3 linked regions of the Homo sapiens genome follow. The protein of the gene in region 3 purifies or fractionates together with the protein of the main gene of each other region. This does not show direct contact. Each region holds a gene or a part of one and is shown on either strand. Other genes may lie near its edges.

Region 1 (3,651 bases), on a different chromosome or scaffold from region 3:
TAAATTTTGATTGATAAGGCATTTCTCTTGTTTGAATTGCCATTTTCATGGTTTCACAGGCACCCCAAAACAGATTTAGGAAGGAGGGTGAGATTTTGCTGTAGCAGACAGGACTGTTTGCTGCGAGTATTCTTTTTAAAACATTCAATATCTCTAATTTACAACTAAATTTAGATCTTAGATTTATTTTCATTTCTTTTGCTCTTGGTGGTTAAAGAATTGTATTTCCAGGCACATGAATTGGAGAACGTAGTACTTTCTGTTTCCCCAAAATGTGACTGCGTTTGTTCCAGTAGACTGAGAATCGGTACCTGGATTTTAGTCCTGGTGAGGTTCTTATTCTTAAGTGTTTGTTTCCTTCATGTTTAAGGAGTTGTGTGTAGCTGGATTTATACATTTTGTCAGTTAGTGTCTTCAGTGGACCCCTTTCAGTGAATATCGGGTAAGCAGCAATGTGCTACATAGGTAATGTGGTTTCTTCTTTCATGGTGTTGCTCAGGATGGTTTGAGCTTTGAGGTGTGTAGTCATATACTAAGGCAAGATATTACTGAAGGAAAATAGCTTATACAGAGAAATTTAAGTTAAAAAACTTAAATTTAAAATTTCTGTGTTTTTAAAAAATAAATTTTATTGCCGAGGGAACTAAAAAATCTAATATGTAAAAGAAATTATGTTAACTTTTTTGTTTTAAAAATTAAAGATGGTTGCGTTATTGTAAGATAAAGGAAAAAAATATTTTGATTCACTAATCATTTCCTAATATTTTCTAATGTATGTTTTAGTTTTCTTAAATATTTTATCAGTTGGAGAATGGAATGTTTTGTGGGAACGCATGGATTGTTCAACTGCAAGAAGGAAAGAACTGGAATTTTGTTTTTATTTGGTTTTTAGTGTTTATTTAATGACCTGGTATCTTTAAACAATTTATCTTCTATATTCTTCAGTTACTTGTAGATAGTTTCATGTATAGTGAATTGGGGAAGAGTTAGAGGAACTTTCGTGATCTGTGTCCTACAAAAAAATCTAAGACAGGTGAAGAAGTGAAAAGTACAATTGATTTATAGTTTTCCTGGCCTCAATACTTGAATAATTATGACGATTTTTGAGACCAGTGGTTTTAAACAATTAGACAAAGGAGAAATGCTTGGTTGGCTTTTACTTTGAGCTCTCAGTAGATTCATTCTTTATGAAGCCAATATAAAAGCATGTGATTAAATAATCCAGATGCTGAATTATTGTGCTTTTGATCAAATAAATCTGAGGATTTAAGGATAGCTTGTGAAGTAACAGTAAGTGCAAAGCAACAGTATATATCTATTTGTTAAATCTGAGGGGGAAAACAGGTTATTGAAGAAGTATGTCTCCAGAGAAAAATGTAGGTATTATGCTTCTGGGCTTTTAAAAAAAAAAATTGATGCTTCCTACAAGAGCATGACCCTGACCATGTTTTTCCAGAAAAATATTTAATTCTTGAATAGAAAGTGCTTTAGATGAGAATAGGATATACTAATTTTTTATATTTGATCTGATTATCTTAGTCCATAATAGGAAGTATATATTGGTTCTTCAGTTGTGATAACATTAAAGCCGTATTTAATGTACTTAGAATAAATAGCATATGCTCCCTTGCTTAATACTTTTTGGCAATATTTCTCATTGCTTATTATCCCTTAAAATTATTTACCAACCTTCTAAAAGGACGCTCTCCTAGTCACACTTGAAGGAAATTACAGGATAGTTGCAGTTTTACTAACTGCAAAAATAAGAGGAAAATGAGAGAAAAAATGAGAGGAAGAAATAGTTAATCCTTTGGGTTTTATAAGGAATGTACTAGGGACCTTTGGGAACGAACAATTTGTCTTGTATTTTAGCGTTTGTAAACACGTAAGGGACTTTCTTCTCAAGGAAAAAAATCCATGGACAATTCAAGACCTGTCTTTTCACCTAGGCCACATTTCTGTGATATAAAGAGAAAATTAATGGATTTGCTTCTTTCTATTTAAGTATTTTAGTACTTTCAAAGAGGGTATATAATCTGTTTATTCACTTTCACACCTATCCATTTCTCTTTAAAATGGACTCCTTGCTTAGTATTTTTTGAGTGTATTTGGATTTTTTTAACGAAGGATTATGTTAAATGTTACTTATGAAAACATTAATTTCTACTCTAAGCAAAATGTGTTTCACTGCAGTGAATTTAAGCTTCAAATAATTCTCGACACTAATAATGAATTTTTTTTCATGTTTATACTTCAGAGCTATTAAGATTTTAAAAGTAGTCAAGATCACCAGTGCGTGAGAGTCCTAAAAATCTTAATTCATTGGCAGTTAAGAGTTAGGGTACTTTAATAGGTGGGAAAGGTTTGGTGGGAGAAACAAGTGAATTACTTTAAGATAATTCTGGTAAGTGAGACTAACCAGTTTTCTAAATAATTCAGAAATAAAACACTGCCATTGAAGCTTAAGCATGTCTTTATGAAAAGTAATCAGCTATCTAGAAATGCCTGCCTGGCTTGATGTTCATTCAAAATTCATTGCAGTGATTAAATTGTTCAAGTACCAGTCATTGCTTGGGGCTTGTTCTGTTTGTCTTATTCTGTGGCTTAGAACAATAACTTATTATGTAGGTATGAAATTCATGAAGTAGCACCCCAAAAAATTGTTTTTGCAAATTGAGATTTTTTTAACAGTCCTAGATTTAAAAAAATAAATTTAAACATATCCCATGCATTTAGCTGCATACTCCTTAGTAGTGTTAGGTTTCTAGAGCAATTTATAATAAAAGTAAAGTTAGGTCTTGAAGAAATCTAAATCTTTTGATCATAGAGAAAATGAAAGTGAGCAGAGAGTTTACGTAGTTTGTCCTAGGTCGTGCAATTCATCTATGGCACAGTTTAGACTGGAACCCAGCCTTCTGTATTCCTAGATTCCTAGTGCTTATTTTCTTTTTCTTTCTTTCTTTTTTTTTTTTTTTTGAGACAGGGTCTCTCTCTGTTGCCCAGGCTGGAGTGCAGTGGCGCAAATCATAGCTCACTACAACCTCAAACTCCTGGGCTCAGGTGATCAATCCTTCCCTCAGAGCCTCTCAAGTAGCTGGGACTATAGGCATGTGCCATCATGCCCGGCTTTTTTTTTTTTTTGTGGAGACAGGGTCTCGATATGTTGATCAGACTGGTCTCGAGCTTCTGGCCTTAAGTGATCCTCCTGTCTTGTGCTGGGATTATAGGCGTGTGCCACTGTTCCCAGTCCTTATTTTCTATGATATCATTTTACTTCTGAATTATTAATACTGTAGTAAATTGCTAATTTTAATTTCAGTACATTCTTAACCTTTTTATACCCCAGAATTCCTGAGAGTAATAACAAAGTTAAGTAACTTAATTTTATTGGAGGAGAGGGATGGTGAGCCAGCCCTTGGCACGGTAACCATCTTTCACCCTAAAGTAGGACCCCTCTTTCCAGGCTTCTATCCCCATCTCCATTGCTGTGAGAATCTCTGACTTAGAGTCTACATAACTAAGTAGATGACGGCAATACTTAAAAGAAATGGTGGTAGAATTGTTTTGAGGGGAAAAATTTGTTCAGACGGTAATACTCATTGCAAATAAGCTTTTGATTGCCTGGAATAAAAAAATCTAGTAATTACTTCA
Region 2 (3,651 bases), on a different chromosome or scaffold from region 3:
GGAGGTGGGCAGGCAAGCTTAGCTTGCACCGGAAGGACACTGCGCAAGGACTGGATGGTGCTGGCGAGAGAGCGGCCAGGGGACTTCCTAGGTTCTCCGAGGAGGGGACGGCCCGAAGATGGAATGCTGAGGCTGGGATCCTGTGAGAGGGAGGGCAGGACCCGAGACTAGGAGGAGCTGGTTTGCGTGGGCATGAGGCTATGAACAGGCCCTCGTGGATGGTGAGTCCCTGGGGAGGGGGAGGCCCCTGTGGCTGAGAGGTGGCCAAGGGGACACCTAGACCCCCATCTGCATTCTCATGGGGCACCCCTCCTCCTCTCCCTCCAGTCATCTGCAAGCAGCAGACCCCGGAGCTGGAGCCAGCCGCCACCATGCCACCCCTGCCACAGCCCCCGCTGGCCCCCGCCGCGCCCATCCCGCCGGCCCAGGGCGCGCCATCCATGGACGAGCTCATCCAGCAGAGCCAGTGGAACCTCCAGCAGCAGGAGCAGCACTTGCTGGCGCTCAGACAGGTATGGGCCCGCCGCCTCCTCGGCCAGACACCAGCAGCTCCCCTGTGCCTCTGTTTTTGCGTCTGCTCATCAGAATGAATAACAGGTGTCAGTGAGGACAGGGCCCCCCCTGCCACCCAGGGCTCGGTGCATGTCAGCCACTGTCACCCCCAGCCCTGATGCCAGACACAGAGGCTGCTTCTCATCTCAGTGAAGCCACTGGACGTGCGTGCACCCATCACCCTGGGGTGGACCCCCCTGAGTGGGACTGTGGGGCACGTATGCACCTTGAAGCTCCCTAATGGCTGTGGCCAGGCAGCCTCTGGTGCCTACCATTGGCCCCACCACACAGTAGCTAGGTCACCTGGAGCTGTTGGTTGGGGAAGGACCCTTTTTTTTTTTTAAGTCTTGTTCTGTCGCCCAGGCTGGAGTGCAGAGGCGTGATCTCAGCTCACTGCAGCCCCTACCTCCCGAGTTCAAACGATTCTCCTGCCTCAGCCTCTGGAGTAGCTGAGATTACAGGCATGCACCACCACACCCGGCTAATTTTTCTATTTGTAGTAGAGATGGAGTTTCACCAGGTTGGCCAGGCTGGTCTCAAATTCCTGACCTCAGGTGATCCACCTGGCCAGAAGGACCCTTTTGTCCTTCCTGGTCCAACAGTTTGATAACTTTCGCCAAATAGAATACAGGTGCATTGGCTGGGTGTGGTGGCTCACACCTGTAATCCCAGCACTTTGGGAGGCTGAGATGGGCAGATCATGAGGTCAGGAGTTCGAGGCTAGCCTGGTCAACATGATGAAACCCTGTCTCTATGAAAAATACAAAAATTAGCTGGGCGTGGTGGTGCACGCCTGTAATCCCAGCTACTTGGGAGGCTGAGGCAGGAGAATTGCTTCAACCTGGGAGGAAAAGGTTGCATGAGCTGAGATTGCACCACTGCACTCCAGCCTGGGTGACTGAGCAAGACTCAGTCTCAGAAAAAATAAATAAATAAAATACTACAAGTGCATTGCCAGAAAAATGAGAGGAATAGAATACCAAACCTCCAAAACACCAACCCCACGCTCAGTACTAGGTTCAGGGCATAAAATCACACTGTCATATTGCTCTCAGAAAATTCCAGCTGGGCACAGTGGCTCAGCCTATAATCCCAGCACTCTGGGAGGCCAAGGCAGGCGGATCACAGGGTCAGGAGTTTGAGACCAGCATGGCCAATATGGTGAAACCCTGTCTCTAGTAAAAAATACAAAAATTAGCTGGGTGCAGTGACAGGTGTCTGTAGTCCCAGCTACGCGGGAGACTGAGGCAGAATTGCTTGAACCCGGGAAGTGGCGGTTGCAGTGAGCTGAGATTATGCCATTGCACTTCAGCCTGGGCGACAGAGCGAGATTCCATCTCAAAAAAAAAAAAAAGAAAAGAAAAGAAAGTTCCAGAATGCTCACCCTCAGCTTCTGTTCATCATGGAGTGGGAGGCCTGCCTTGACCAGCCGTAACTGACCGCTGGTCCGCATGGCAGCTCTGTTTTTACCAGTCGCACTTTAACCGGTGTTTCCTCTTGAGGAATGAGATTGCCCCCTTCTTGCTTCACTAGAGGCCATGGGTGTATCCTCTTCTTCTATTGCCTGTCGTTCACACCATGCCTCATTTGTCTTTTTTTTTCTTTTCTTTTCTTTTTGTTGTTGTTGTTGTTGTTGTTTTGTTGTTGTTAGAGACAAGGTCTTGCTGTGTCACTCAGGCTGGAGTGCAGTGGTACAGTCACAGCTCACTGTTTAACTTTGAACTCCTGGGTTCCAGCAATCCTTCCGCCTCAGCCTCCCAAGTAGTTGGGAACACAGGCACACACTACCATGCTCAACTAATTTGTATTTTATTTTTTGTAGAGATGAGGTTTCGCTACGTTGCCCAGGTGGTCTGGAGCTCCTGGGCTCAAGCGATCCTCCCGCCTCAGCCTCCCAAAGTGCTGGGATTACAGGCATGAGCCACCGCGCCCCGCCTTTGTTTTTTGTTGAGTTGGTTTGCAGAGGTTGTTTGTTCCTCTGGGCTGCAGTGTTTTCCTTGGTTACCTGGAGGGCAGGTGTTGTCTCCTGGTATGTCCTGTCAGTGCCCTGCCCACTCCAGGAGGGACTGTCACAGATTCACGGCAGGCATGAGAGACAGAATCTCCTCCTGCTGGGGACAAGCAAGGGAGCTGATGGCCAGAGCAGCCCAGAGTCCGGGCATCGCCACCATGTCCCCACCCCGCCCCTGCTGAGCCAGGCCGGAGGGCTCAGGCTGCGGGTCCCTCCTCATGTGTTCTCGACCCCACCGACCCCCGCCCGCAGGAGCAAGTGACAGCGGCCGTGGCCCACGCGGTGGAGCAGCAGATGCAGAAGCTTCTGGAGGAGACCCAGCTAGACATGAACGAGTTTGACAACCTCCTGCAGCCCATCATCGACACGTGCACCAAGGACGCCATCTCGGTGAGGGGCCAGCACTTCCCAGAGCCCAGCTTTCCCTTGGTCCCTCCCTGAGGCAGGGCCTGTCGTAGCCAATCTGGGCTAAGGGCTGTTACAATGGGTGCCCTTCCCTCCCGCCTGGAGCTCCTGAGGCTGTGGGACCCTGTGCCCCCCACGCTCATGGTGTGTCCTTCCCTGAGCTGATGGTGACGCGCTCTCAGGGATGCAGTGGGTGCCTGGGGGAGCCGCGGCCCTGCTCACTCGTCATTGGCTCGGTTGTTGCAGGCCGGGAAGAACTGGATGTTCAGCAATGCCAAGTCCCCGCCGCACTGTGAGCTGATGGCCGGCCACCTCCGGAACCGCATCACGGCTGATGGGGCACACTTCGAGCTGCGGCTGCACCTCATCTACCTGATCAATGACGTGCTGCACCACTGGTGAGCGCCGCCACCCCGTGCCCAGAGCGCCACTTCCTCGCGCTCCTCCTCAACCCTCCTGGGTGGCCGCTTGCTCCGGTCGGTAGCTTGGCTTGGCCTGTCCCGAGACTAGGGGGCACTTGTCCGGGGACCCCGGGTGGGGGGTCTCTGTGAGCCACCAGGCTTCTGTCTCCAGGACTGCGAGGTCTAGGTGTCCTGTGCACCTTCGCTGCATGCCCTGTCCTCTCCCCTAGACCCCGGCCTCACCTGTCACATTGCTGTCTCCTGGGGGCCACTGTCCCCTGC
Region 3 (3,651 bases):
TTTAGTCCACAGAACAGCCCTATGAAGTGATATTATTATCTTCCTCTTACAGTTGAGGTGACCGAGACTCAAAGGAACATGAGAGCTCTTGGTCTCGTGGATTAGCTTCAGAATCTAGCAGGGGAGAGGCATCCTTGGAAATTGGCAGATTTGGTTTGGAATCTCAGTGAGCACTTCTTCTTTAAACTCAATGGAAGCTAAGCAGAGTTTATTAATCTAAAAACTTCTTAGACAATAGGCCTGATAATGGGGAATGAATCCCTGCTTAATTATCTCACCAGATGACTGGGTAGTGACCTAAGATACACTTTCTTCAGTTTCTGGGTAGGATTTTAGTGACTGGTTTCCCCTGGGATACATAGATAACTCTCCTGCTGCAGTCCTTACCAACTGCCAAACCCAGATCTCACCCATCTCTAGCTTCAGTAAGTTTGAGTCTCCTCCCAGCTCATCCACTTTATTCCACCAAAGAAAAATGTGAACAAAAAAGAAAGACATGAATGTTTTATCAACCAGTGGTAACTCGTCAGTTTCTCAGCCCTATGCAGGTATGCAAGCCTACGCTTATCCCCAGGCATCTGCCGTCACCTCCCAGCTGCAGCCCGTTCGGCCTTTGTACCCAGCACCGCTCTCTCAGCCTCCCCATTTCCAAGGTAGGGAGTAATTCCCTCAGTTTCTCATCTTCCGCTCTTGCTGTGCTTTCCCTCTTCTTGCTCCTCCTTCATTTTCACACCAACAGCTCTCTACTCATTGTTTCTTCTCTTTTTTAACAGCTTTGTTGAGATATAATATGTATTCCACACATTCATTCATTTTAAATGTGCAATTCAAAAGTGTTTTAGTAAATTTGCAGAGTTGTGCATTCATCACTACAATCCTATTTTAGAACATTTCCGTCATCCCCCAATGTTTCCTTGTGTCCACATTCTGTGTTTTTTTCCTTGGATTTTCTCCCCTGGCCCTTTTAATTCCTCTGTTAGAGTAGCTAGAGTTTAGAGAAAATAGTAAAAGAGCAAAACATTGGAGGAAATTGGGAGAAAGTTGAATACTATAGGTGTTTAGTATCTCTAATGAAAGCTACTCTGTTAACATTTTTAAATTATGAAAATAAGAGACTTTTATAAAAAAGTCAAGCAGTACAAAAGGGTGTAAAGTGAAGTTACTGTCCTTCCCCTCCATAAACCCCCTGACCTTGGGAAACTGTTGTTAACAGTTACTTGGGTAACTTTTCAGATATTTTGTATGCATGTACAAATGTGAGTATCTAATGTAAAAAAATCAAACCAAGATAAAGTGTAAACTGCTATGATGGAATCCTGCCTTGTTCTGCTATTAGTCTTCTGTTTAGTAATCAGCTTTGGTATTAGGACAGTGGTAGGAAGAAGCCAGTATGTCCTGCAACATAATTTGTGGTTCTGGACTGGTCAGGATTTCCTGAATGCAGCCTTTATCTGGAAGCTCTGCCCTTCTCCATCTGGGATACGCTTTTTCATCCATCAAAACTGTCATCTCCCTCTGTGAAGCCTTCCCTGACTATTCTCTGTCCCTCTTTCCTCTCTTCCCACAAACACAACTGTGTACGCGTGTCACCAAAGAGTTAATCGTGCTTTTCTCTGTGCTACTTTTATACCTAGTATATGGTCCATTGTTTTGCACTTAATACACTCTCTTGTAATGATTTGTTTACATGTCAGTCTCCCAGCCAGACTGAGAGCTCACCAAGGGCAGAAGCCGTGTTTTGTTTACTGCTGTATTCCTGGTACCTGGTACAATGCTTGGCATACAGTTGGATGAACGGGAAAGTAATCTGAGCTGCCGGTGCTGTGGCAGTGCAAAGTGGGCATATTTGTGCCCTTGGACCAGATGTAGCCCTTGATGCATTTTGCAGGAACACGGCTTAGTTATTGTTTACTTTGAAGCCCTTTTGCCTCTACTCTCTCCCATATATCTTCTCCTGACAGGGTGAAGTCACCTATAGCATTTCCTAGTGTATGGAAGTATTAATTTCTTTCTTTACTGGAAGAGCTACTAGCTTTTCTTCATACAGTTTCCTCTGCTCCAGTTTCATAAGTTTCTTTTTGGCTTGTATCTGTTTAGGATCAGGTGATATGGCTTCATTTCTCATGACTGAAGCCCGGCAACATAACACTGAAATTCGAATGGCAGTCAGCAAAGTGGCTGATAAAATGGATCATCTCATGACTAAGGTGACTGAGTCAGAGTTGGGGTGATGTTGAAAGTGGGGATGTAAACAGGGAGCAGCCAGAACTGTAGGTAAACTCTTCTTTGATTTCCTGCATTGGTAGTAGTGAGAGGTTATTTCCCTACAAGGATAGTTATAATTATGTTGGGATCCAGTTAGTAGGAGAAAACTCTAACTTAACAGTTAGAGATTGTCCCAGGAACTCATTAACCCCCTTAACAACAGGGTCAAATCTTGGGTAAATTGTATTTCTTCATTTTATAATTTCTCACAAGGTCTTTCTGGTATCCCTTTTGTAGGTTGAAGAGTTACAGAAACATAGTGCTGGCAATTCCATGCTTATTCCTAGCATGTCAGTTACAATGGAAACAAGCATGATTATGAGCAACATCCAGCGAATCATTCAGGTGAGGGTGATTAAGAACATACCACTCAGGCTGAAGGTCTTACCCATCCTCTCTTCTCAGAGGTACTACTCTTTAACACCTCCACCCCAGAAATAGCCTGTGATAAACGCTACACTGGGTTAGACAATTCTAGAAAATCCATTATGGCTTAATTCTGTCCAAGTGACTTATCACTATATATTCTGAAGGAAACATTGCTTTTTTGACCATACTTCAGAATTTCACTTCTTTTTTTAGCCATTTATTCACTCAATCCATTGGACCTAGTGATTTGTATCCATCAGGTGTAATCTGATGTGTTGTTTTAACATACATGTGGACATAAGTTCTAGTGTTTTGTCTCAAAACATGTTAACAATGTCACCTGTCAGTTCAAGTTGATTCTCTTCTATCTGGCACTTTTCTCCCAAGACACTTAAATTGTACATCATATATTTTGAAATTAGGAAAATGAAAGATTGAAGCAAGAGATCCTTGAAAAGAGCAATCGGATAGAAGAACAGAATGACAAGATTAGTGAACTAATTGAACGAAATCAGAGGTAATGACAGGTACGGGGCCTGGCTAGGATGGACAAAAGGGTTTATTATGTATATGCCCAGCTTAAGTACACGTATTTGTTTAGGGCAGTACGTATGTATTTCTGCCATTTCTGTTTCCTGCCTGTCATGTGAATTATTGCCTGTTTTCTGAGAGGCATTGCAGTAGAAGGAGCTTAGTAGGCTGTGATGTAGGGCAGACCTGTGTTTGATTCCTGCTCTGACCCTCATTCATTCTGTGGCTCTGGGCATGTTATTTATTCCTGCTGGCCCTAGTTTCTTTATCTTTAAAACTGGTATTATTACTTACAGAACTCTGGTGTCAACTCTTCTCTCTTCTGTGTGGGCTAACTCTATTTTATCCATCAGAACTCAGCCAAAACTTCACTGATTCCCATATAAGACCTAAGGATTTTGTACTTTTTGTAGATACTTCTGAAGATTTGGAGGGGTGGGTGGGGAGGATGAGTGGAACACATCACAACACAGCATTTCACTTAAA

What was found.
Region 1: the proteins of FKBP15 (region 3) and MIER1 fractionate together in Homo sapiens (co-fractionation; one large-scale study listed by BioGRID). This does not show direct contact.
Region 2: the proteins of FKBP15 (region 3) and CHERP fractionate together in Homo sapiens (co-fractionation; one large-scale study listed by BioGRID). This does not show direct contact.

Annotation. Positions count from the first base shown.
Region 1 is NC_000001.11:66,931,446-66,935,096, forward strand, and holds part of MIER1 (mesoderm induction early response protein 1), read left to right. Parts: intron 1-3,651. UniProt on the Homo sapiens protein: Transcriptional repressor regulating the expression of a number of genes including SP1 target genes. Probably functions through recruitment of HDAC1 a histone deacetylase involved in chromatin silencing.
Region 2 is NC_000019.10:16,532,313-16,535,963, reverse strand, and holds part of CHERP (calcium homeostasis endoplasmic reticulum protein), read left to right. Parts: intron 1-327; coding exon 328-512; intron 513-2,815; coding exon 2,816-2,953; intron 2,954-3,214; coding exon 3,215-3,366; intron 3,367-3,651. UniProt on the Homo sapiens protein: Involved in calcium homeostasis, growth and proliferation.
Region 3 is NC_000009.12:113,183,251-113,186,901, reverse strand, and holds part of FKBP15 (FK506-binding protein 15), read left to right. Parts: intron 1-538; coding exon 539-653; intron 654-2,097; coding exon 2,098-2,207; intron 2,208-2,502; coding exon 2,503-2,610; intron 2,611-3,056; coding exon 3,057-3,151; intron 3,152-3,651. UniProt on the Homo sapiens protein: May be involved in the cytoskeletal organization of neuronal growth cones. Seems to be inactive as a PPIase. Involved in the transport of early endosomes at the level of transition between microfilament-based and microtubule-based movement.